Linked DNA regions of Homo sapiens: region 1 is linked to region 2. The links come from fine-mapping of genetic effects on gene expression. A gene starts in region 2. The other region holds a variant in brackets. All regions are shown on one strand. Distances are from middle to middle.

Region 1 (12,790 bases), 540 kb before region 2:
TAATTTTTGTATTTTTAGTAGAGACGGGGTTTCACCATGTTGGCCAGGGTGGTCGTGAACTCCTGAACTCAACTGATCTGCCCTTCCAAAGTGCTGGGATTACAGGCATAAGCCACCACACCCGGCCTCTATTTCTCATTAATCAGAGACTTTAACCCATCTGGAACTATCGTTAAGTGATCTAATGGGTGTGGGACGCACTATAAAGAGCTGTCATAATATGAGACAACATAAGGACACCTGAGACCTTAGTTAACCTGCAAGTGCTTTCACGATTAGCACCTGACTTCTCATAGATATTTTTTTAAATATTGGGGAAAATGTAATCCTGCCTTCAAGTAGATCACAGTTTAGGGAGAAGACACCCATGTGTAGTTAATGGAAACAATAGTTTTGAAATTTACTAATTTGCTGGTGTCCCTTGCATTTCCTTGTCCTCCCCCTGACTTGCCCCGTCTTCTGCAGAGGCATCCATTTGCCCAAGAGGGAACTAGGACTGTTACAACAGGAACTCAAAGAGGACGCAGTCCATATTCAGTTTTGAAATTCAGAATAGATACCTGGAAAGCACAGAAAGACGATAGTCTTAAAAGCCAGGCTTTGTCATGAAAGAATTTTCTAAGTTCCTTTGGCTCCTAGAACTGTGTCAGAGTCACTAACTCTAAGCCTAAGTCAGATGACAAACTCACTTCCATGATGCAGAAGGAATACTCCTGCTACCATTAAGGGACTTAAGGCTCCCTCATCCCCCTAGAAAGGAAGAAATGACAGCGAGAAGGCCACCCTAGAGAGGAAGCAGAAATAGAAAGCCGGTTCTCTTTTTCACACAAGTGGAGTGTGGGGAGGAGAAAGGAACGTTGACAAACGTGTTCTCCCTTTTCTTCCTCTTGAGGTGAAACTCTGCAGTGGACAAACTGGTAAAAATGCCCAGGTAGGCTGGAGGTAGCTGAGAACCTTGTAGGAGGAAGAGGGAAGGTGAAGACTTACTAAAGACACCCGGCATTTGGTCCCGCCCAACATGGTTTGGGCAGCAGCACAGCAGCTGCTAGACAGGTAAACTCTAGGCCAGAGGGTTCCTGGGTGAGGCCAGAGGAAGTGATGGACCAGCAGGTGCCTGTGGCAAGGACAAGGGTCTGCTCTGTCCAGGACTTGTTCGCGGACACAGGGATGAGCACCTAGCACAATGTCGGGTACTCAAAAAGCCTTAGCTAGCCCTAGAGGGTATTGGTTTATTAGAACACGAGAGCCACACAGCACCAAAGGAAAAGCAGATAGGTGCTATGGAGAAACAGTGTGATAGCTACAGAAGCAAATTACTCTCCTTAAGCATTACGTCAGTTAGGGTCCATTCAAGAAAACAGAATCCTCCCTAGGTATTCCAAACACAGATAATTTAATAAAGGGAATTGGTCACCCACATTATGGAAACTGAGAAGCCAACCAGGAGATAATGAGTCATCCAGAGATTATAAGAGCAGGAAGCCCCTATTAGCCACGTGGCTGAAAGGACAACACATTGGCAACTAGATGGACATTGAATGCCTGAATCATAAATAGGCTTATTTTTATAAAAAATATTTAATAAGATGGCCAGGTGTGGTGGCTCACGCCTGTAATCCCAGCACTTTGGGAGGCCGAGGTGGGGGGATCACGAGGTCAGGAGTTTGAGACCAACCTGACCAACATGGTGAAACCCTGTCTCTACTAAAAATACAAAAATTAGCCGGGCATGGTGGCACTCACCTGTAATCCCAGCTACTCAGGAGGCTGAGGCAGGAGAATCGCTTGAACCCGGGAGGCGGAGGTTGCAGAGAGCCGAGGTCGCGCCACTGCACTCCAGCCTAGGTGACAGAGAGAGACTCAGTCTCAAAATAATAATAATAAGATGGCCAGGCGTGGTGGCTTACGCCTGTAATCCCAGCACTTTGGGAGGCCGAGGCTGGCAAATCACAAGATCAGGAGATCAAGATCATCCTAGCCAACATAGTGAAACCCTGTCTCTACTAAAAATACAAAAATTATCTGGGCGTACTGGCACATGCCTGTAATCCCAGCTACTCAGGAGGCTGAGGCAGGAGAATAGCTTGAACCAGGGAGTCAGAGATTGCAGTGAGCCGAGATCACACCACTGCACTCCAGCCTGGCAACAGAGCAAGACTCCATCTCAAAAAACAAACAAACAAGCAAACAAAAAGCAACAACAACAAAAAAAACCCAAAAACAAACCATATTTAATAAGATGTAGGTAAACTTTTATTTTTATTTATTTATTTTTTGAAACTAGGTCTCACTTTGCCACCCACGCTGGAGTGCATTGGGGTAGTCTCAGCTTACTGCAGCCTCGACCTCCTGGGCTCAGTGAGCCTCCCACCTGAGTCCCCAGAGTAGCTAAGACTAAATCTCACCTTGTTGCACAGGCTGGTATTGAACTCCTGAGTTCAAGTGATCTGCTTGCCTTAGCCTCCCAAAGTGCTGGGATTACAGGTGTCAGCCACAGCACCAGGCCAAGATGTAGGTACATTTTAAACATTAAAATCAGCTTTAAACAATTTTTGCTTAAAAATATATCTTTGGCCGGGCACAGTAGCTTACACCCGCATTCCCAGCACTTTGAGAGGCTAAGGCAGGCAGATCACTTGAGGTCAGGAGTTCCAGACCAGCCTGGCCAACATGGCAAAACTCCCTCTCTGCTAAAAATGCAAAAATTAGCTAGGAGTGGTGGCTCATGCCTGTAGTCCCGGCTATTGGGGAGGGTGAGACAGGAGAATGGCTGAAACCTGGGAGGTGGAGACTACAGTGAGCCGAGATTGCACTACTGCACTCCAGCCTGGGTGACAGAGTGAGACTCCGTCTCAAAAAAAAAAAAAAATCTTCTTTAACTTGTATTTTATCATTAAATACAGGCAAGAAGGCGGTTTGTTTTGGGAAAGGGCTGTTAATCACCTTGTTTTAAGAAACTAAGTTCCTCCCAAACTTAGTTCAGCCTATGCCCAGGAATGAACAAAGACAGCTTGGAGCTTAGAAGCAAGATGGAGTTGGCTAGGTCAGATCTTTTTTGCTGTCTCAGCTATAATTTTGCACTAGCGGTTTCATGATCTCCAAGGGCTCTTTTCCCGAGGCATTCCTTGGTTCTGGGTTCTCCCTAGTGAAACAGATTCCCTAGGAGTTTTCATTCTCTCCAGGTGGGGGCAGCAAAGGACAGTGAATCCCATGGGCGGGCCTGGTAGTGCTGTGGAGAGCTCCTCGCACTTCTCTGGCGGCTGGCAGTTAAGTGCTGGAAATCTGCAAACATCTTCGCTCCCCGCCCTCTCTTCCTCCATGTCTCAGAGGAGTCACACCTGCTCAGAGTCAGATCATTGCTTTACCTGTGGCCCAAGTCGGTTTAAAGAATAATTAAACTACAAGTTTGAAAATTAAACAAAGCATGGTAATTAGAAATAAAAACAGACCAGAGACCATCTAAAGCAATCAGATACCCCCAAGATAAGCTAATTATAAAAACTAAGCACTGAATTTAGCTCCAAATTTCTAGATATCAGGGCAGGGTCAGGATTAGGGTAAAGCAGCCTCAAATGCAAAAGGTAAGGAGAGGCCGGGTGTGGTGGCTCACACCAGTAATCCCAGCATTTTGGGAGGCTGAGTTGGGAGGATTCCTGGAGGCCAGGAGTTAAGACCTGCCTGGGCAACATAGTAAGACCCCATATCTACAAATTTTTTTTTTAATTTTAATTAGCCAGGCATGGTGGTGCACACCTGTAATCCTAGCTACTCAGGAGACTGAGGCTGTAATGAGCTATGAGCTATGATCACACCACAGCTTCCAGCCTGGGTGACAGAGGGAGACCCTGTTTTAAAAAAAAAAAAAAAAAAAAGTGATAAGGAGAGGGGAAGACCAAAACCTCAATAACCAAGTAAATCATATTTTAATGTAATATTTCTAAAAATCAAAATTAAAAAACCCTCACAAAAAATATGTCCAATTTTTGCATAAAAACATGTATATAGAGAGAAATACTTTGTCTTTTGCCTCAATTCCAAAATGACACCACATAGCACAGTCAGATCTGGTCTTTAGTTAAGATTTGATATTTTGTTCACCTGGAATTTTTTTTTTTTTAGACAGAGTCTCGCTCTGTTGCCCAGGCTGGAGTGCAGTGGCACGATCTCAGCTCACTGCAAGCTCCGCCTCCCGGGTTCGCATCATTCTCCTGCCTCAGCCTCCCGAGTAGCTGGGACTACAGGCGCCCACCACCACGCCCGGCTAATTTTTTGTATTTTTTAGTAGAGATGGGGTTTCACCGTGTTAGCCAGATGGTCTTGACCTCCTGACCTCGTGATCCGCCCGCCTTGGCCTCCCAAAGTGCTAGGATTACAGGTGTGAGCCACCGCGCCTGGCCCTGTTCATCTGGAATTTTTTAGTATTAATGGTGATCTTTTAAAATATTACATTAAAATATTGTAATCTTAGAGTATTTGGTGCCCCTCTAAATTTATCAAGGTGAATGCCTCACTGTGACTCACCTTCATCCCAGACCTGCGAGGGGCCCCTCACTAGGGAGCATCAGAATCCCTGGACTCCCCTGGCCAACAAGCCCTTGCCAGGCATCCCACATGCCCAGGATGCCCTAGGGCAAGCCTGGCAGACCCACAGTTCACAAGACACCACCCCATCGGCCTTGGGCTGGCTCTTCCCCCTGCATCCGGTGCCAGCCACCAAATCCTTCCCAACACAGTGCTCCAGGCACCTCTATCTACTGATCAGAACTGACAGATGAGATAAAAATCTTTTTTAAAAAATTTATTGTGGTAAGGACATGTAACATGAGATCTACCCTCTTAACGAAGTTTTAAGTGTATAACACATGGCTGTTGACTATAGGTGCAATGTTATACGGCAGATCTCTAGAGTTGTGTTTTGTTTTGTTTTGTTTTGTTTTGTTTTTTTGAGATGGAGTCTTGCTCTGTCGCTCAGGCTGGAGTGCAATGGCATGATCTCAGCTCACTGCAACCTCTGCCTCCCAGGTTAAAGTGATTCTCCTGCCTCAGCCTCCCGAGTAGCTGGGATTACAGGTGCATGCCACCACGCCTGGCTAATTTTTTTATTTTTAGTAGAGACAGAGTTTCACCATGTTGGCCAGGCTGGTCTCAAACTCCTGACCTCAGGTGATCTACCTGACTTGGCCTCCCAAAGTGCTGGGATTACAGGCTTGGGCCACCATGTCTGGCCAGATCTCTAGAGTTTATTCATCTTGCTTAAAGATAAAATCTTAAAAATAAAGACCTAGGAAATTATTCTAACAGGGACAACTGACATAATATTGTAGGAATGAGACTGGAGAGGATTTCCAGCTCCAAAGCTCATTTTAGGCTGACAGATGATGGTGCAGAGCTGTAGATAGGGCTGTGTATTAGTCTGTTCTCATGCTGCTAATAAATACATACCTGAGACTGGGTAATTTATAAAGGAAAGAGGTTTAATGGACTCACAGTTCCACATGGCTGGGGAGGCCTCACAGTCATGGCGTAAGGCGCATGAGGAGCAAAGTCACGTCTTACATGGCATCAGCCAAGAGTGTGTGTGCAGGGGAACTCCCCTTTATAAAACCATCAGATCTCATGAGCCTTATTCCCTATCACGAGAACAACAGGGGAAAAACCGGCCCCCATGATTCAATTACCTCCCACCAGGTCCCTCCCAAGACACATGGGAATGATGGGAGCTACAATTCAAGATGAGATTTGGGTGGGGACACAGCCAAACTATATCAGGCTGTACGTTGAAAGAGTGAGGTAACTATTGCTCTAGATGCTGCTGGTCTGCGGACACTTTGAGGACCATCCAGTAGAAATTTCTGCAGTTACAGAACTCTTCCACATTCGCACAGGCAATACAGTAGGCACCAACCATGGGAGGCTACTGAGCGCTTGAAATGTGGCTAGTGCAACTAAGAAACTAAATGTTAAGACATATCTAATTCTGATGAATTTATATTTACATTTAATTGATTTAAATGACCACATATTTTCTTTTTTTTTTCCTTTTTTTTTTTTTTTTTTTTGAGATGGAGTTTCGCTCTGTCGCCCAGGCTGGAGTGCAATGGCACAATCTCGGCTCACTGCAACTTCCGCCTCCTGGGTTCACGCCATTCTCCTGCCTCAGCCTCCCGAGCAGCTGGGACTACAGGCGCCCGCAACCACACCCGGCTAATTTTTTGTATTTTTAGTAGAGATGGGGTTTCACCGTGTTAGCCAGGATGGTCTCGATCTCCTGACTTCGTGATCCGCCTGCCTCGGCCTCCCAAAGTGCTGGGATTACAGGCCTGAGCCACTGTGCCCGGCCAATGACCACATATTTTCTTTTGGCTGGAACCACCATCTTCTAATCATTTGCCTAAATGATGAAAAAAAAGGGAATGAGGAGAAGCACCTGCTCTCTGTTCCCTGGGCCTTTTAGAATGCATGGAGTTGTTCCTTTGGACACACACACGTGAATCTACAAGAAGGGAGATGTTGTAGACATCAAGGGAATGGGTACTGTTCAAAAAGGAATACCTCACAAATGTTACCATGGCAAAGCTGGAAGTCTACAGTGCTACCCAGCATGCTATTGGCATTTCTGTAAACAAACAATATTCTAGCCAAGAGAATTACTGTATATGTTGAGCATATGAAGTACTTAAAGAGCCAAGATAGTTTCCTAAACGCGGAAGGAAAACGATCAGAAAACGAAGGAACCCAAAGAGAAACGTACCTGGGTTCCGCTGAAGCACCAGCCTGCTCTACGCAGAGAAGCACACTTAGTGAACCAACAGAAGAGGGCCTGAGCTGCTGGAACCTGTTCCCTATGAATTTATGGCACAATAGGTGCCAAAAAATTAAGGACCTCTTGACTGTTAAAAAAAAATCCATGTAATTAGTGGCTACTTATTAGTGCAGCAAGCCTCAGATTTTACATTACAATCACCTGCAGGACTTGAAGCAATTTGGTGCGTCCGTCTCAGAGCCTCTGATTCAGTAGGTCTTGGTGGAGCCTGAGAGTTTTCACTTCTTTTCTTTTTTTTTTTGAGACAGACTCTCACTCTGCTGCCCAGGCTGGAGTGCAGTGGCGTGATCTCGGCTCACTGCAACCTCTGCCTCCCAGGTTCAGGCAATTCTCCTGCCTCAGCCTCCCGAGTAGCTGGGATTACAGACATGTGCCACCACGCCCGGCTAATTTTTGTGTTTTTTGTAGAGATGGGGGTTTCACCATGTTGGCCAGGCTGGTCTTGAACTCCTGACCTCAGGTGATCCGCCCACCTCAGCCTCCCAAAGTGTTGGGATTACAGGCGTAAGCCACCATGCCCACATGTACACATACCCGATTCCCCACTTTCATTTCTTTTGGGTAGGGAGCTCCACTTCTAAGCTCCCTCACATGTCTATTGGAAATTGTCAATTCATCTTGGGCCATTTTTGGTTCAGTTCATCTCAAAAAGTTATTTTGTCGTCCCTATAAATCCAGAGCTAAAGGACCTCAGCAGTATCCTTTTATAGAGTAGACACTGCACTGCAGGCCCACCTGACTGAGACTCAGAGTCCAGATTCCGGCTGGAGCAGGAAGTCGGTAAAATGTCCCCCAGTGACCCCATCCCCAGGTGTTCAGCCCCTTGTGTGATCCCCTCCCGCTGTGTGTGTGCTGGACTTGCTTTTCATGAAGAGACTAGTGGAAGTGGTGGCTTGTCACTTCTGAGATTAGGTTACAAAAGACTAGCTTCCTTCCCGTTCACCCTCTCTCTCACTGGTACTGG[T/G]GGAAGCAAGCTGCTGTGTTGTAAACAACCTGTCAGGAGGGCTGTGTGGCAGAGCAAGGGACTGATGTCACAGTGCTTTGTGATTCTTTTTCCCCCTGAAAGCCTAGTGGGATAATTACAACTTGAACGGAGCCATCTTCTCTGTTCTGCTCTACACTCCCCTACACAATCCATCTCCCGATGTGCAGAGCCAGCCAGGGACCACGACCTAGGACAGCCCAAGTGCAGGGGATGAAATGCCTGTGATCCTACAAGTCCTGTGGCACCAACTGCCCCCCACCTCTGGTGCCTCCACATTGATACAGCCAGGGGAAGACGTTTGACAAGCTAATTAGATTGCCTCATTACGTATTTGGAATCGGGGCATTAAAAAGCGAGGGTAGTCAGATGGCAGGAGGCCAAGCTCATATAGATATGGCTGATGTCAGTGGCCTAGCAAGTCACTTATGTGGGAAGCCAAAATGTCTTCGGAGGTAGTGTGGTATGCTGGTAAGGCTCCCAGAGTGCGGAAGTAGGCGGCCTGGCTTGAATCATGGCTCCCATTTATCAGCTATAGGACTTGGGGCAAGTTGCTTAACCTTTAGGTGACTCTGTTTTCTCATCTGTAAAATGGGGAAATGGTATTGAACTCAACTAGTTAAAATGAAAAGAGTTGACATACACAGGGGACACAGCACAGGCACACAGCACACACCCGAGAACTGCCAAGAGACAAGAAGGCTGCAGAGAAGGCCCTACAGCCCCGAAGCCCACAGACCAGCAGCTCCCAATGACATTCCAGTCGTCAGAGGAGCTGCCAGGACTTGAGCACTTTATTTCAACCATCAAAGCGTTTCCACAGAGAGCAAACAGAAATATTTCCTATGGCATTTTACCTAATTAAGTCTTCAGCTCAACACTGAAAGACTTTTCAATTTAAAAATCATACACCACATTTATGTGAAAATTTTATTTTTCTTTTTATTGCAAATTTCTGGTAAAGGAAAGAACATGGAAGCTGATTCTCATTTGAGCTTTGGTGAGAAGAGAACTGCACTGTGGCTCGACAGCTCACCACCTCGGCTGCACACCCAAACACGCGGAGGCCTCGGGCACGCACTGATGCCTGCGACCCACCTCCCAGAGGTTCTGACTTAATCGGTCTGGGAGGCACAGCGGGGCATCAGTAGATTTCCCAACTCCTCTGGATGATTTCAACATGTAGCCAAGGTGAGCACACCTGCGGTGGCTCATCTCAAGGGGCTGGCAATGTCAGAAGCACCTGAGAAGCTCAGCTGACAGCCAAGTGTCACCTGCTTACATCACTCCTTGGCCAGAGTCCAGCTGGTGTTCCCCGCCTCCCTCTTCCCAGGTGTCGATGTTCTGATTCCTTCTCCTCAAAGACCCCACAAGACAGAGATGCTGGAGGGGGTGTGGCTTCCTGTGCTGTGGTTTGTGCTTAAACGTGGAGAACCACATGAACCACGTGTACGCTACCACAAAAGAAATTCACTTTCTGATTGCAAAACAGCATTCGCCTTTTTTTATTTGTTAAGTGGAAATTTGTGGCAAAATAAGAAAATATGTGTTGGATAATATAGTCCCTATATAACCTCTCATGTCCAAATTTGAAAAAAAAAATTGTCAAGCCATTGACAGCAAAATATGTACTTTAGCAGCATATTTTATATGGGTAAACAGTAATAGCCAGTTAGACACTTCATTTGTGATTTGTCCTAAAAATAGAAAATGCTTTTTATTTTCCTGAGTCCTTGGCAAACAAAAAACATTTTTTTCTTTTTAATTGTTAAAGTATTCCTGTTTTTCTTTTTCCTGGGACACCCTCACAGTTCAGAACGTTGTGTCTCACTGTCAGTTTTTACATACAGAGATGAACAAACAGCACTGGGGCCAATTTTCAATGACTGATCAAATATGGCGATTGAAAATAAAACACCCATCATCTACAAAGTTGCTCAAGATGAAAGTTTCTTACAGTGCTATAAATGCAATATCAATTTGAATTGTTGTCCATACAAAAGTATGAATTTCTATTCCATTAGTAATACTGAATGATTAATACCTTAACAGCGATAAAATTTTTAGAACATTTAAAAAATACAGAGGATTCCAGTTTTACATCATACTTCTGACGGATTATCATACTTTCTATTTTGTCTGCAAAACTTTTACAGAGTACAGTGCATTGACATGATAAAACCAAGGCACAAAAATACAGTTACGATAAGTGTATATAAACCCTAGCACTTTGTGCCAATTTTGGAAACAGATCATAAAGTCTGAAAAATTACCACATTCTATTTGATTAGTGAACAATTAATTGTGCAGTAAATAGACTGTTAACCACCATTCCATTATTAAATATATGGCTATCACTATACAGGTTGTGGATAATTCAAAAATAGTTTTAAATATTAAAACCTGTAATATCTAGGTGGTCAACGCAGATATTGAGCCTTACGTTATCTAAATAAGTTTCCATTTAATTTGCAATCCACATGGCAGTTAGCAATTTTTAAACTATTTCCATTACATAAATGGTGGGGTTTATTCTAAATGTTAAATCCTTTCCCCTTACAAAAGACAGAAGATTTACAAGAAGATAACCAATATAAGAAGTGCATAGACAACGATAATAAAATCCAAATTGGACTCAAAGGTTGAAGTCTAATCTACTGGGACATTCTCTTAATTTAGGGTGAGGAGCAACACATTCCTGTGATGATTCATTAGTTTCTTAATTAAAAAAAAATCCCCATGACATTTTTCAAAATAGTAAACAGTCTTCATTAGTGCATCAAGCATTGAAGAAAAATTGTCGTCTTTCCATTCGTAAAATGAAGAAGATAAAAGCCTTTCAAAATCCAGGGCGGGGGATTTCCATTGAATTTAGAGAAGTGAAATAAACTGGTAAAAACTGTATTTCATACTTTTAACAAAAGAGTATTTTCAAGACTCAAGGTAAACATTTAGACCCATAAAAACACATTTCTTGGCACATGCACGCCATGGATGGAACAATCCTGAATGCAGCGATGGCCTGGCTACAGAGGTATCCGGCTCCTAGCCCCACTGGCAAAACTGTCTTTTAGGACCTTGTCCCAGCTCCCTTCACATGGGGGTCTCTGGCTTCTGCATCAGCTGGATTTGCTTCTGTAGCTGGTCCCTGTCCAGCTTCATCTTGGCCTCGAGAACTTGCCTGAGGGATCCTATGCTTTCATAGACGGCTGTAAACCCTTGAAGGAGAGGTAAATTTCACAACAGTTAACAATTTTTTTAAAATGCTGTATCAAATTCTATAGTATCTAGTAATGGTTGATTCAGGCAAAAATTATTAATAGATGCTAAAACCTCTGGGATGAAAGTATGATGGGGAACAGGTGAGTTTCTAGTTTCTCCCTAGAGATTACTTTTTAATTACAAAAAGGAAAAAGGAACTATTACAATGGAGAAGACTGTCATATACCCCTTTAACCAAGTGATCAAATCTCACGTCACCCATACTGGGAGAAACAACATCACGTAACTTCTGAAAAGATACCCTGAGCAGGGCACAACATCACTTCTTGACATTTTTAAAGAATACCAAAATACACAACCTAAATTATATCAAGATGAAGCAAACAGGCCTGGTACGGTGGCTCATGCCAGTAATCCCAGCACTTTGGGAGGCCAAGGCGGATGGATCACCTGAGGTCAGGAGTTCGAGCCAGCCTGGCCAACACGGCGAAACCCTGTCTCTACTAAAAATACAAAAATTAGCTGGGTATGGTGGCGCACACCTGTAGTCCCAGCTACTCGGGAGGCTGAGGCAGGGAGAATTGCTTGAACCCAGGAAGCGGACGTTGCAGTGAGCTGAGATTGTGCTACTGCACTCCAGCCTCGGCGACAGAGCAAGACTCGTCTCAAAAAAAAAAAAAAAAAAATGAAGCAAACAAATCTAAACTAGGGATAGTCTACAAAATGCTGGCTGGCTGGTATTCTTTAAAAAGGTCAACATCACTGAGAAACTGATCCAGATTAATAGAGACTAAATAAAGAAACATGACAACTAAATACGATGTGTAATTCTGGATTAGAACCTGAAGGGCCAACATCACTAATTATAGGAAAAATACAAATTAAAACCACAATGAGTTATCACCTCACACCTGTTAGGATGGCTATTATCAAAAAGACAAACGAGTACAAGCATTAGCGAGGGTGTGAAGAAAGGGGAACACTTGTACACTGTTGGTGGGAATGCAGGATGGGGCAGCCATAGTGGAAAACAGTATAGGGCAGGGGTATCCAAACTTTCAGCTTCCTTGGGCCACACTGAAAGAATTGTCTTGGGCAATACAAATACACTAACACTAATGATAGCTGATGAGTGATTTAAAAAAAAAAATCACAAAAAAATCTCATAATGTTTTAAGAAAGTTTACGAATTTGGGTTAGGCTGCATTCAAAGCCATCCTGGGTCGCATGTGGCCTGCGGGATGTGGGTTGGACAAGCTTGGTATAGAGGTTACTAAAGAAATTTAAAATAGAACTACCATACGACCCAGCAATCTCACTACTGGGTATATTCCCAAAAGAAATTAAATTACTGCCTCATAAAGATATCTGCACTCCCCTGTTCACTGCACCATTATTTACAATAGCCAAGATATGGAAACAACTGAAGTGTGTCCATCAAAAAATTAGTGAATAAAGAAATTGTGTATATATACAAATGATGAATATTATTCAGCTTTACAAAAAAGGAGAGCCTGCCATTTGTCACAAATGGATAAAAATGGAGGACATTATGCTAAGTGAAATAAGACAGATACAGAAAGAAAAATACTGCACGATCTCATATGTGGAATCTAAAAAAAGAAAAGGAAGGAAGAAGGGAAGGGGAGGGGAGGGGAAGGGAAAGGAAGGGAAGGGAAGGGAAGGGAAAGGAAAGAAAGGAAGAAAGAAAAGAAAGAGAAAGAAAGGAAAGAAAGAGAGAAAGAGAGAAGGAGGGAGGAAGG
Region 2 (12,790 bases):
ACAACATTAAAAATTGGTGAATCTGAATAATGAGTATTCAAGAGTTCTCAGTACTATTTTTTAAATCTTTCGGTAAGTTTGAAATTATGTCAAAATAAAAATGTAAGTAGCCAGGCGTGGTGGCTCACGCCTGTAATCCCAGCACTTTGGGAGGCCAAGGCGGGAGGATTACTTGAGGTCAGGAGTTCGAGACCAGCCTGGCCAACATAGCGAAACCCCATCTCTACCAAAAATATAAAAAATAACCTGAGCGTGGTAGCGTGCACCTCTAATCCCAGCTACCTGGGAGGGTGAGTCAGGAAAATCACTTGAAGCTGGAAGGTGGAGGTGACAATGAGCCAAGATGGGGCCACTGCACTCCAGCCTGGGCCACAGAGTGAGACTCCATTAAAAAAAAAAAAAAAAAAAAAAAATTTAAGTAACAACAAATTGGGATGTCAAAAGATAGTAAAATAAGTAATTTATTCGAGTGCCCTATAGTACATATGAATAAGGGAAATGACTACAACATTGATTCAGACTTGACACCTAGCCATATATAGAATTTCTTAAATTTTCTATTTGGTAGAAAAGGAAAAATATTTTTTAAGAATCCAATCACATACAAACTAAACTAAGATGCTAATCGTGTATGCCCTCAGGAAAACACAAAAATCTTCTCCATGTTAACACAATCCACACTGCCAAACTCTCCTTTCCACCAGCAAGCCATAAGCCCCTTCAGGCAGGTGTTAAGAGCCTGCCCTTTGTTTTAACTCAAGCACTGGCACAGTGCCTGAAATACAACACTCCTGTTTGTTGAATAAATACTGAACATTTACAAATAGAAACGAAATACTGTATTTTTATCAAAATGAAAAGAAGCGTGGAAGGGAACAGACACTTAAATATGGTACTTTCACAAATTTTGAGATGGAGTCTCACTCTGTTACTCAGGTTGGAGTGCAGTGGTGCAATCTCAGCTCACTGCAACCTCCACCTCCTGGGTTCAAGCAATTCTCCTGTCTCAGCCTCCCAAGCAGCTGGGATTACAGGCACCCACCACCACGCCCAGCTAATTTTTGTATTTACAGTTATATTTTTTTTATTTTTGTGTTTTTAGTAGAGACAAGGTTTCACCATGTTGGCCAGGCTGGTCTCGAACTCCTGATGTCAGGTGATCCACTCGCCTTGGCCTCCCAAAGTTCTGGGATTACAGGTGTGAGCCACTATACCTGGCCACTTTTACTAATTATTTTAAAACATTTTTATTTACAATTGAACATTTTCTTTTTTTTGAGATGGAATCTTGCTCTGTCACCCAGACTGAAGGGCAGTGGCGCAATCTTGGCTCACTGCAACCTCTGCCTCCTGGGTTCAAGTCATTCTCCTGCCTCAACCTCCCAAGTAGCTGGGATTACAAGCACCCGCCACCATGCCCGGCTACTTTTTGTATTTTTTAGTAGAGACAGGGTTTTGCCACGTTGGGCAGGCTGGTCTCAAACTCCTGACCTCAGGTGATCCGCCTGCCTCAGCCTCCCAAAGTGCTAGGATTACTACAGGTGTGCACCACCATGTCCAGCCTAAACATGAATGAACGTTTTCAAAAATATATTATTTTATTTTATTTCATTTACTTATTTATTTTGAGATAGGGTCTGGCTTTGTCACCGAGGCTGGAATGCAGTGGCACAATCTCGGCTCATTGCAACCTCTGCCTCCCGGGCTCAAGCCATCCTCTCACCTCAGCCTCCCGAGTAGCTGGGACTACAGGCATGTGCCATTATGCCTGTCTAATTTTTGTATTTTTTTGGTACAGCCAGAATTTCGTCACATTGCCCAGCCTAGTCTCAAACTCCTGGGCTCAAGCAATCCACCTTCCTCAGCCTCCCAAGGTGCTATGATTACAGGCATGAGCCACTGGGCCCAGCCAAAAAAATATATTTTAAAATATGAACAATTTTCAAACCTCACAAAAGCAGAGAACAATATTATTAATACCCATGTACCCATCACCCCAACCCAACAATTATCCAGATTGTGCCAGACCTGCTTCATCTATCTTATCTCCCTCCACCACATTTTTTGGTTTTTATCTGGTATCTGTTTAAAATAACAGACATTGCTGGGCACGGTGGCCCACGTCTGTAATCCCAGCACTTTGGGAGGCCGAGACGGGCGAATCACCTGAGATCACGAGTTCAAGACCAGCCTGGCTAACATGGTGAAAAACCGTTTCTACTAAAAATACAAAAAGTTAGCAGGCGTGGTGGCGCGCTCCTGTAATCCCAGCTACTCAGGAGACTGACGCAGAAGAATTGCTTGAACCCGGGAGGTGGAGGCTTCAGTGAGCTGAGATCACACCACTGCACTCCAGCTTGGGCAACGAGGGAAACTCCATCTCAAAATAAAATAAAATAAAATAAAATACCAGACATTTGCAAGTTTTCTCCCTCATTCCTCAGTCTCTATCACTAATAAAAAGTGGTCATTTTCTTACATAAACATAATGCCATTATCATCCCTAACAAAGTTACAATAACTCCTTGATATCATCTAATACCCATCCATATTCAGATTTCCCCCAATGTTTCAAAAATGACTTTCTACAATTGGTTTGAGTCAGGGTTTAAACAACACCAACATATTGTATTTGGTTACTACACATAAAATAATTTTAATCTGTCTACATCATCTGACAGCAAATATGAAAAGCTTAACAGACAAACCAAATAATTAATTTACATTTGTAGATTCTCTAGAATCAAACCTCACCTAATGCATTTGCCGCCCCTGCTATCTGTAGCAGTCTTCCTCCAAATCGTCACTATGGCTGATTTTTTCTAGTCATTGAAGTCACAGGTCAAATTACCACCTCTAAAAAGGCCCTCCCTAACCACTCAATCTACAGTAAAACCACTTCCATCCATGCCGTATCACATGGTCCTATTTTCCTCATGGCACTTACCACTACCTGAAACCATTCTGTTTATTATGTTCCCACACACAGAACAGAATGTCAGCTCCATGAAGGCAGAGTGCCTTCACTGAAGACCAGTGACTGTGCCTAGAACATGAGACATTCAATAAATGTATCTACGTAATAATGCAGTACCGCTCTTTAAAATGTAAGCTCAGCTAAGTATTTGGAGGCTTTTTTGTTGTTTTGTTTTTTTTCAAGATGGAGTCTTGCTCTGTCACCCAGGCTGGAGTGCAGATCTCAGCTCAGTGGAACCTCCACCTCCCGGGTTCAAGCAATTCTGCCTTACCCTCTTGAGCAGCCAGGATTACAGGCGCATGCCACCACCATGCCCAGCTAATTTTTGTATTTTTTTTTTAGTACAGACGGGGTTTCACCATGTTGGCCTGGCTGCTCTCGAACCCGACCTCATGATCTACCCGCCTCGGCTTCCCAAAGTGCTGGGATTACAGGTATGAGCAAGCGCACCCAGCCTCAGCTAAGTATTTGTCTTTAAATATTTGTAATTCACTCCTCATGTAATGATATAAATTGAGTACCTGTAGAAACCTGGGCCAGCTGTTACCAAGAATCTGTAGGATGTAGGAAAGAAACAAACAGAGGTATAAGACATTCAAATGTAATTGTGGACTTTTACTGAACAATAATTACAGGTTTCTGAAAGAAAAACAAATTATTCCAGATGATTTTTAAAATGTTACCAGGAGTAATAAAAAATTTCATTTTTAGTACCATCTGAAAGCTATTAAAGCTTCAGTAATTAATATCTACAATGGGACAACAATAGCAATAATATGTGGAACAACAATCATAGTTTTTTTGTTTGTTTGTTTTGAGAAACAGTCTCGCTCTGTCGCCCAAGCTGGAGTGCAGTGAGTGGCACGATCTCCGCTTACTGCAACCTCCGCCTCCGAGGTTCAAGCCATTCTCCTGCCTCAGCTTCCCAGGCAGCTGGGACTACAGGCGCACACCACTAAGCTCGGCTAATTTTTTGTATTTTCAGTAGAGATGGGGTTTCACCATTTTGGCCAGACTGGTCACCTCAAGTGATTCGCCCGCCTTGGCCTCCCAAAGTGCTGGGATTACAGGGGTGAGCCACCACGCCTGGCCCACAGCTTCATGACAGGTTTTACACATACACATTTCATGAGGGAATTGATGCTTTTTGTACAGCATTTCTTTCTGGGGATTCAATTACGACAAACACAACAATGAATACCAAAAACCTAACTAGATATACAAACCATTAAATTTGGGACCTAAAGAAAACGAAAGTTATCTATTCTACAATTCTCATTTAAACAGAGAGACCTGAAGCCCAAGGAGGGTTAACAATAAACTCGGAGATCTAATGTATAGCAAGCAAAGATAGATCTAAAATCTAGATCTCCTGTCCTTAGCCCTATATTATTTCATAAGATAACGTTACCCATAGAACGGTAATGTCAAGTTATAACATATTTTAACTGCTATCATTTTTCAGATGGTCTCTTTTATTTCCTACTGAAGTCTTGGCCCAAAAGGGGAGAAAAAGTCAAAAGAAGGGCACATAAGTATGCCTCAAGTAAAGCATGATACAGAAACCTCTCTTTAAACTATAACAAAAAAAAAAAGAAGGAAACATCTAAAAATCTAAATGGTTTGATTCAATTAGTTTCCTTTATATTTTTTATTTTAAAGTAAAATAACTAGGAGTATCTGCTAAATGACTGCACCTTAGCTTTATACAAGCAAGGTGCTTTTCTCTTAAACATCACAACAGCTCTCTCTCAATAATCTGTAGAAATGGAGTACCAAAGTGAAATTCGTTAAGATGTAACCTCTGCTGTAATGCATTTTTCACCAAAATGAAGTCACTTTGTTTATACCTTTCTTTAAAAACCAGTTCTATGTCTGGTGAAATAACTAGCAAACAAGTGGCCAACAGACACCAAACAAAAGTTAAGAAGTGACAGAAGGATCTGCACATGATATAGCACCCGTGATAAACAAGGAGACTCATTCTTCCTACTTTTTCCTAAAATATTATTTAGATTTATAAACACCCTCACCAATTCTTAGAATACTGTTGTGAATCTTTGGTCACAAACAAATGAGCAGGAGAGAGATGATAAAGTCATTTGTCCAAGGTTAAATGGCAAGAAAGTGTCCAAAATAAGATAAATCAAGGCTTTAGAAACAATCAATTTAAAATGATTGTAAAAGTAAAAGGGCTTCCTTCTTATCCATCTGTTTCACCTCACAAATATAACCAGACTAGGGTGAAACAATGTGGCTTATACTGACATGAAGATTTTTACAAAAATACATATAGTAATAAACTATCAAAAGATGTATCTTTACTGTAATAAAGCTAAGTCCAGCGTTACAGAAGTTGTGTATGGTAATCTCAAAATCACATTCAAGCATTTACAACCATCACACACACACACAACAAAAATGGGAAAGGAAATGGAACCTTAGCTTATGTTTTTCCCAGTTTGTTCTTTTTAGTTCAAGAGGCCCCTAAAACAAGAAAATTATAGATAAAATACCAAATGAAATAAAGTTTAGATTAAGTCACATTCAAAAGCTACAGGAAATCCTACAAAACGTAGTCTATGTCAGCTGGCATCTTACCATTCAAGAGAATTCTAAATTAATGCCGCACATAAATCAAGAAACAGGAAAGCTTACAACAACACAATGGAGTCACCCCACAACACACACACGAACAAATTAAATGAATACCTCATACTTTCTGGTATTTTTTGAATAATCAAAACTTAGGTTGAGAAATACCCATCTGTAAAGATCTATCTACTATAACCTATTTAAGAACTGTTGTAACAAATCTATTTCTGCTGCACTGAACAGATATTCCCACTATAGCACTGACACTGACTCTGATAAATTATCGAAGGACAATAGTAAAAACATCAGTTTCTTTTTAAATGACCAACAAGCCAACTCCATACAAAATCTGACGCGTCTGTATTTCAGCTGTTCCGCGGACTACGTTTCCTTGATCACAGCAGCAGCAGGCGACTCCCTAGCCGTCAGGGCTGACTTAGCGCCCTCCAACTCCCCGGGTCCGGGTTACCTTCATCACTCCATTGTCAAATCGCACTCCCACGCCTCGGTCCTCAGCCCCCATCCTGAGACTCTAGGGAGAGTCGGAAGTGGGAGAGAAATCCCCTCACCCACACTCCCTCACTGTAGGCTGTGGGTGTGTCGGTAGACGAATGCCTTGCCCAAACACAAATCGTCTGCGGAGACCCAGACCCTAAGTCACCACCGAGCCAGAGATAACCGGCCGGTCACCGACCCCAGCCTTCCGCGGCCGCAGCCCTTCCTCTTTCTCCCCTCCAGGCCGGCCCCTCCCCCGTTGCGCGCACGCGCGGCCTCCAATGGATCCCCTCCCCCCCCGTTCCCCTCACCTTAATCATTAGCCACCCTCTTCTCTTCCAGGGTCCGGGAATCACTGACCCAGGAAGGAAGACAGAAATGTAAGGCGTAAAGAGTAATGCGTCGAGAGCCAGCGATCTGCGCCTCAGACGTCGGCCTAATAGGCCCCTAGAGTCAAGAACAGTGTCTGTCACCGCCACCAAAACTGTACGTGCGGCAGCGCCTGGACTCGGCCCAGCTAAGCCGGCGTGGGTTCAGAATGCCTAATTTGGTCCCACAAGAACTCCTTCTCTGAAGCTGCGGGCGTTTCTACGCTGCGCAAACCGAACACCTCCTCGCCGTCGCCGCCACTGCCGCTGCTCCCCTACAGCCGCCGCCGCCGCTTCGCCGCCGCCGCCGCCTAACCAATTCCTCCCCTACCGAGGAGAGCACGACACTAGGGCTCTTTACGACAGTTCGGAAAGTGAGAGCGCAGTAGCCTTCACGCCTCCATTAACATCTGTTTGTTTCTGCGCTTGCTCGATTCCCGTTTCTCACCGTCCCGCCCCCTCGGTCCCGGCCCTCCCCCTTTGTACTGGTTTTATCAGTCTGTTGGCGAACTGAAAGGTGTCACAAAGCTCATTATTTAATTTTCTTTGGTGATTATGCGTTCAACATTTAAGCCAAATCTTGACTACATCTTGGTTCATTTTTTCGTAACTAAAAATTAACCAACTACAGAATTGATACATTTACAGATATACGTAAACAAAAACATCATGGGTTAGTGTCTTTCACAACAAATGATACCCATATCATATGCGCTAATGACATAAAGATCACGGCACCTCACTGTTAAAGTGAATTTGCTTCCGGAATCAGATCAAAAGTGGTCACATATCTCCTGCGAACTCGGGCTGTACAATCGCATAAGCCTCCTTGTTTATTTTATAAAAGTCAGTAGATAACAAATGCGTCATTATATGCATTAGGAGGATAGAGAGAGGATGAGCTTCAGAGTCCATCAGGCAGACTTCCTTTCAAAGTCCAGTGGTGCCACTTAAGAGTTCTCTGATTGATGAGATCCTTATAAATCTTAGTTTCCTCCTCTATAAATTGGGATAACGTATTTACCTCAAAAGGTTCTTGTTAGATTAAATGAGACAATTTATATAATGCTCTGAACATTACTTGCCAATTAAGTGTTCACTAAACATTAATTCCCTCCCTTTGCCATCAACTCATCTTTTTCAATACTTTTTTTGTTCACTCATATTTTCCGTATCATTCAGTAAGCAAATGATTTTGGCCGGGCACGGTGGCTCACGCCTGTAATCCCAGCACTTTGGGAGGCCTAGGCGGGTGGACTACCTGAGATCAGGAGTTCAAGACCAGCCTGGCCAACATGGTGAAACTCCTTCTCCACTAAAAATACAAAAACTAGCTGGGCGTGGTGGCGGACGCCTGTAATCCCAGCTACTCGGCAGGCTGAGGCAGGAGAATCGCTTGAGCCAGGGTGGCCGAGGTTGCAGTGAGCCATGATCAAGCCATTGCACCCCAGCCCGGGTGACAGGGAGACTCCGTCTCCAAGAAAAAAAAAAAAAAGGCTGGGCGCGGTGGCTCACGCCTGTAATCCCAGCACTTTTGGAGGCCAAGGCGGGCGGATCATGAGGTCAGGAGATGGAGACCATCCTGGCTAACACGGTGAAACGCTGTCTCTACTAAAAATACAAAAAATTAGCCGGGCGTAGTGGCGGGCGCCTGTAACCCCAGCTACTCGGGAGGCTGACACAGGAGAATTGCTAGGACCCGGGAGGCAGAGGTTGTAGTGAGTGCGAGATTGTGCCACTGCACTCCAGCCTGGGCGACAGAGTGAGATTCCGTCTCAAAACAAACAAACAAACAAACAAACAAAACACACACACACACACACACACAAATGATTTTAAAATTACAATAATGATCAAGGATAGCAGATTGTGTGGGAAAACTAAAAGAGCATTCGACTAGGATTTTCCTCAATCCTCCTATTTTCTCACTCTTAAACATAGAATTTTGCCCGGACTATCTTATCTTCTCCCTTGATTTTAACTGTTACTATCTCATGACTTCTCAAACCTGTATTTCCAGCTCTAACCTTTTTTCTGAAGCTTTTGACCTGTGTTCTTCAATTAGGTAGACACCAGCCATATGTGGCTGCTGAGCACTTAAAATGTGGCTAGACTCCCTCCTCTTCTCCCTCTCCCCTCCCCTTTTCCTTTTCCGTCTCCCTAAAAAAATAAATAAATAAAAATAATTGAGAAGTGCTTTAAGTGAAAAATACACATCGAATTTCAAAGGTACAATACAAAAAAAGACTGAAAAATCTCAGTACTTTTTAATATTTATTATATGTTGAAATAATATTTTGGATATATTGGGTTAAATCAGTGGTTCTGAAGCTGGGATGATTTAGCAACATCCGGAGACATTGCTGTTTGTTACAACTCAGGGAGGAGGGGCGTGGCTACTGGCATCTATCCACTAGGATAGAGGCTAGGGATGCTGGCCTCTCCACAACAAAGAATTCTTTGGCCGAAAATGTTAATAATGCAGTTGAGAAACCCCAGATGAAATAAAAGGGTGAGGGCTTCAACCCTGTTGGGATGCTGAAGGAAAAGAGTCAGTAGAAAAAAGGAGTGGAAAGATAAAGAAAATAAAGGGATGCGCAATGGAGAAAAATACCTATGGAGCCAGAGGAAATGAGATTTAAAGCTCAGATGGAAATTTAGCCTTGGATAGGAGAAGGGATGGCCTTTCCACTGAAACAGGTGAGAAGGAAGAAGACTGCAGTTTAGGTATGTTAGCTTCAGGGGGCAAATTGAGGGCTTGTTCACTGAATGACCTTGACTTCCTTATGAAACATGAGGTAGGGCCATCTATAAACATATGAGCTTTGGAAAATGCTGGGCGGAGAGTGACTAGAAGAGATTTTAAAAATCAGAATAGTCACTACCATAATGGCAGAAGGGCAACAAATCAAAGCCCAGAGCAGAAGAGGAGTGAGGTTGAAGGGACAGGTGTTACGCAGTTGTATTTAGAAGAATAATGGTAGATTCGGGTGAGAAGCGGCTCTCACCTAATTTACACATAACAATTTTCTGATTTCTATGCTTCTGCTTCCACCACTGTCACCACACCACCCCAAACTCAACCTTAAGCCACAGTTAGAGTATGGCAGAAACTGATTAGACATTAAATTGCTTAAATCTTTCAATGATCCTCCATCACCTTCAAGTTAAAAATCCTTAGCATGACAAATAAAGCCCTTCAAAATCCAGATTCTTCAGTATCACTTCATACCAGCCCTAGTTCCCATCCTGTCCCCTGACCCTTCCTGGACCTCGGTGGACTTCTCAAACTTCTTGTAATTCTCCAGGAAAAAAAAAAAAAATATATATATATATATATAATATATATATAAAAGAATATATAATATATATTATATATATAAAAGAATATATGTTATATATAAGAATATATAATATATATGTAAAAGAATATATATATATATTATTCCTATATAACTATCAATTTTCCCCATGAAGCTAACAAACCTAATTGCATTAGTACAATCTCACTTCTTCCCTCTCACATGTTTCAGTGGAAAGGCTATCCTTTCTCCTATCCAAGGCTAATTCTTCCATGTGAGATTTGGATCTCATTTCCTCTGCCTACATAAGAACTTTCTTCAACTGACCATCTTTTTATTTCCATTATCTTTCCTCTCTCTTTTTCTACTGTTTCTTACCCTTCAGAATACCAGCAAGGTTCAAGACTCACCCGATCTTAACTCCATATTCTTGTAGATATATGTCTCTCTTTTTCCATCTCTCTGCCTTTGCACAGTTCCTTCTGTCTCAAAATTCACCCCCTTTCTCCACATTTCCCACCCATGCTTTATCTGCTTAACAAATTCTTACCCATTCCTCCAAGCCGTCTTCCATGAAGCATTTCCTTACCGCTCTCCCCACCCCTTGAAATGGACTTACTCCAGTTTTAGTACTCTCTTCAAGCTTTATACATACATCTAAGTATTATGATTGTTTACATACATACCTGTCTCAAAACTTAAAATCAGAGAAAATGTCTTTCTCTCTTAAGTAGAAAAATAGCACTCAAATATTTATTGAACTGTACTGAATAAGAAGATTGGGATTCTAATCTCAATTTTGCCAGAAGAAACCAGAAATCCTTAATCAAATCACTTTAAATATCTGAAAATTAATTTTACTCACTTGTGGAGAGATCAAGTTTTTCCAAATGCACTCCAAACCAAATTCTGCTTTCCTCAAACTGCAGCCAAATAATGTTTACCAAATTAGTCTGCATATATGGGCCAGCAGAATCTAACTACTGCCTGACAGGAATTTGAGGAGTTTGGTCTAAACATGGAAATACTGGGCTGAATTAGTGAGTTACCTGCAATCAAGGGTAATAAGAAAATTTCTACAAACTATCAAAGTCAGAAGGAAAGACTGGTATGCCCATCATCCATTGCATAGTTCACAACTGTATAAAGTCTGCAAGTGAGAGTAACTAATTATGTGGTCAGCTTCGTGAGCTCTTTGGAAGAAATGGAGAAAAGTTTGAAGATGTAATGCAAGAGTTAGAAGATCTTGGGAAATTCTTGAAAGTATTTAGTGAACTATTTCCTCAGATGTAAAGCTTTGGAAATAATTAAAAGGATCTCAGAGATGAACTAATCAGAACACTTCGTGATTCAGAATATTTTATTTTCTTCTTGGCATATGAAGATATCACTGGAACTTAAAACTGAAAGAAAAGTGCTATAGACTCCATAACTGCTGATTTAGTTGAGGTAGCACAGTTCTCATTAAAATTTTCTATATGGGCTGGGTGTGGCGGCTCATCCCTGTAATCCCAGCGCTTTGGGAGGCAGAAAAGGGTGATCACCTGAGGACAAGAGTTGGAGACCAGCCTGGCCAACATAGTGAAACCCCATCTCTACTAAAAATACAAAAATTAGCCGCACATGGTGGCAGGCACCTGTAATCCCAGCTACTCAAGAGGCTGAGGCAGGCAATTGCTTGAGCCCAGGAGGTGGAGGTTGCAGTGAGCCAAGATCGTGCCACTGCACTCCAGCCTGGGCAACAGAACAAGACTTCACCTCAAAAAATACGTATCTAGATAAAAAATGATTTCAGGCTATGTGATTGGAAAGAGACTATTTTTAAAGATTATATATGTAGCATATACTACATATAGTACTATATAATCTTTATTATATGTACATAGAAACAGATAGATAGTAATTAGACACAGCCCTTTATCCTACTAAACTGTTTTGCAATCAATGCAATCATAGATTCTGAAAAATTGAGGAGCTATTTAGCAGAAGGATAACCTCAAAAGACAATACCTTTGTGATGAGTACTTATCAACTAATAAATTTACAATTTTCTTTGGAAGGCAACTTTCAAGATATATTTGAAATATCAAGAGGCCAGGCGCAGTGGCTCATGCCTGTAATCCCAGCATTTTGGGAGGCCGAGGTGGTTGGATCACCTGAGGCTGGGAGTTCGAGACTTGGCTGGCCAACATGGTGAAACCCCGTCTCTACTAAAAACACAAAGAAATTAGCTGGGCACACGCCTGTAATCCCAGCTACTTGGGAGGCTGAAACAGGAGAATTGCTTGAACCCAGGAGGCGGAGGTTGCAGTGAGCCAAGATCATGCCGAACAGAGCAAGACTCTGTCAGAAGAAGAAGGAGAAGGAGAAGGAGAAGGAGAAGGAGAGGAAGAGGAAGAAGAAGAAGAAGAAGAAGAAGAAGAAGAAGAAGAAGAAGAAGAAGAAGAAGACGACTCAATAACTAATACTATCTCTGTGACTCTGTTTCTAAAAAACAGAGGTAACAAATTATGGACTAACCAGGGGACACAGAATGCCTGGAATTTTGCAGATGAGCAAAACTTCAAATATCATGATATGTTTCTGGTTATCAGGCCAAATTCTGGGCATGTCTGAGGCTCTCTCATTCTGTGAAAGTATATTTTTAAGATAAAAGTGTAGAAAAATGAAAGTGAAAGCTGCCATTCACCATTGGTAATGTAAGCCTAGAACCACAAGCAAGGATTTCCAACTGACTGATAACCATTCTCAGAAATAGTTTAGTCTTTTAATTACCAATATTTTTACACACTTGGTTAAAGTTAGTCAGAGGTTTACCAGTGAGCATTTTCATTAAGTTGTTGTTAACTCTTGAAATGCTTTTGCAATGTCGCTTTTAAAATTCAGAATTTTTAATGCGCTCACCTCTATTAGCAATCTTTTTTACAATTACAAGTTTCTGGCCAGGTGCAGGGACTCACATCTGTAATCTAAGTGCTTTGGGAGGCTAAGTTGGGACAATCACTTGAACCTAGGAGTTCAAGACCGGCCTGGGCAAAATAGTGAGGCTCCAT

What was found.
Region 1: its variant is fine-mapped to the expression of RNF111 in whole blood (TOPMed, PIP above 0.99).

Annotation. Positions count from the first base shown.
Region 1 is chr15:59,519,487-59,532,276 of GRCh38, reverse strand. FAM81A (family with sequence similarity 81 member A) reads right to left here. Exons shown (of 9, transcript NM_152450.3): 9 at 8,722-11,023. The coding sequence ends at 10,899. It also overlaps the pseudogene RPL21P114. Among named protein-coding and RNA genes, the nearest start is that of GCNT3, 86 kb to the left of the region's middle. The variant T/G (reference allele first, on the strand shown) is at 7,788.
Region 2 is chr15:58,981,657-58,994,446 of GRCh38, reverse strand. RNF111 (ring finger protein 111) reads right to left here and starts at 6,784. Exons shown (of 14, transcript NM_017610.8): 1 at 6,379-6,784. RefSeq lists an enhancer at 2,838-3,337 and a silencer at 5,901-6,065.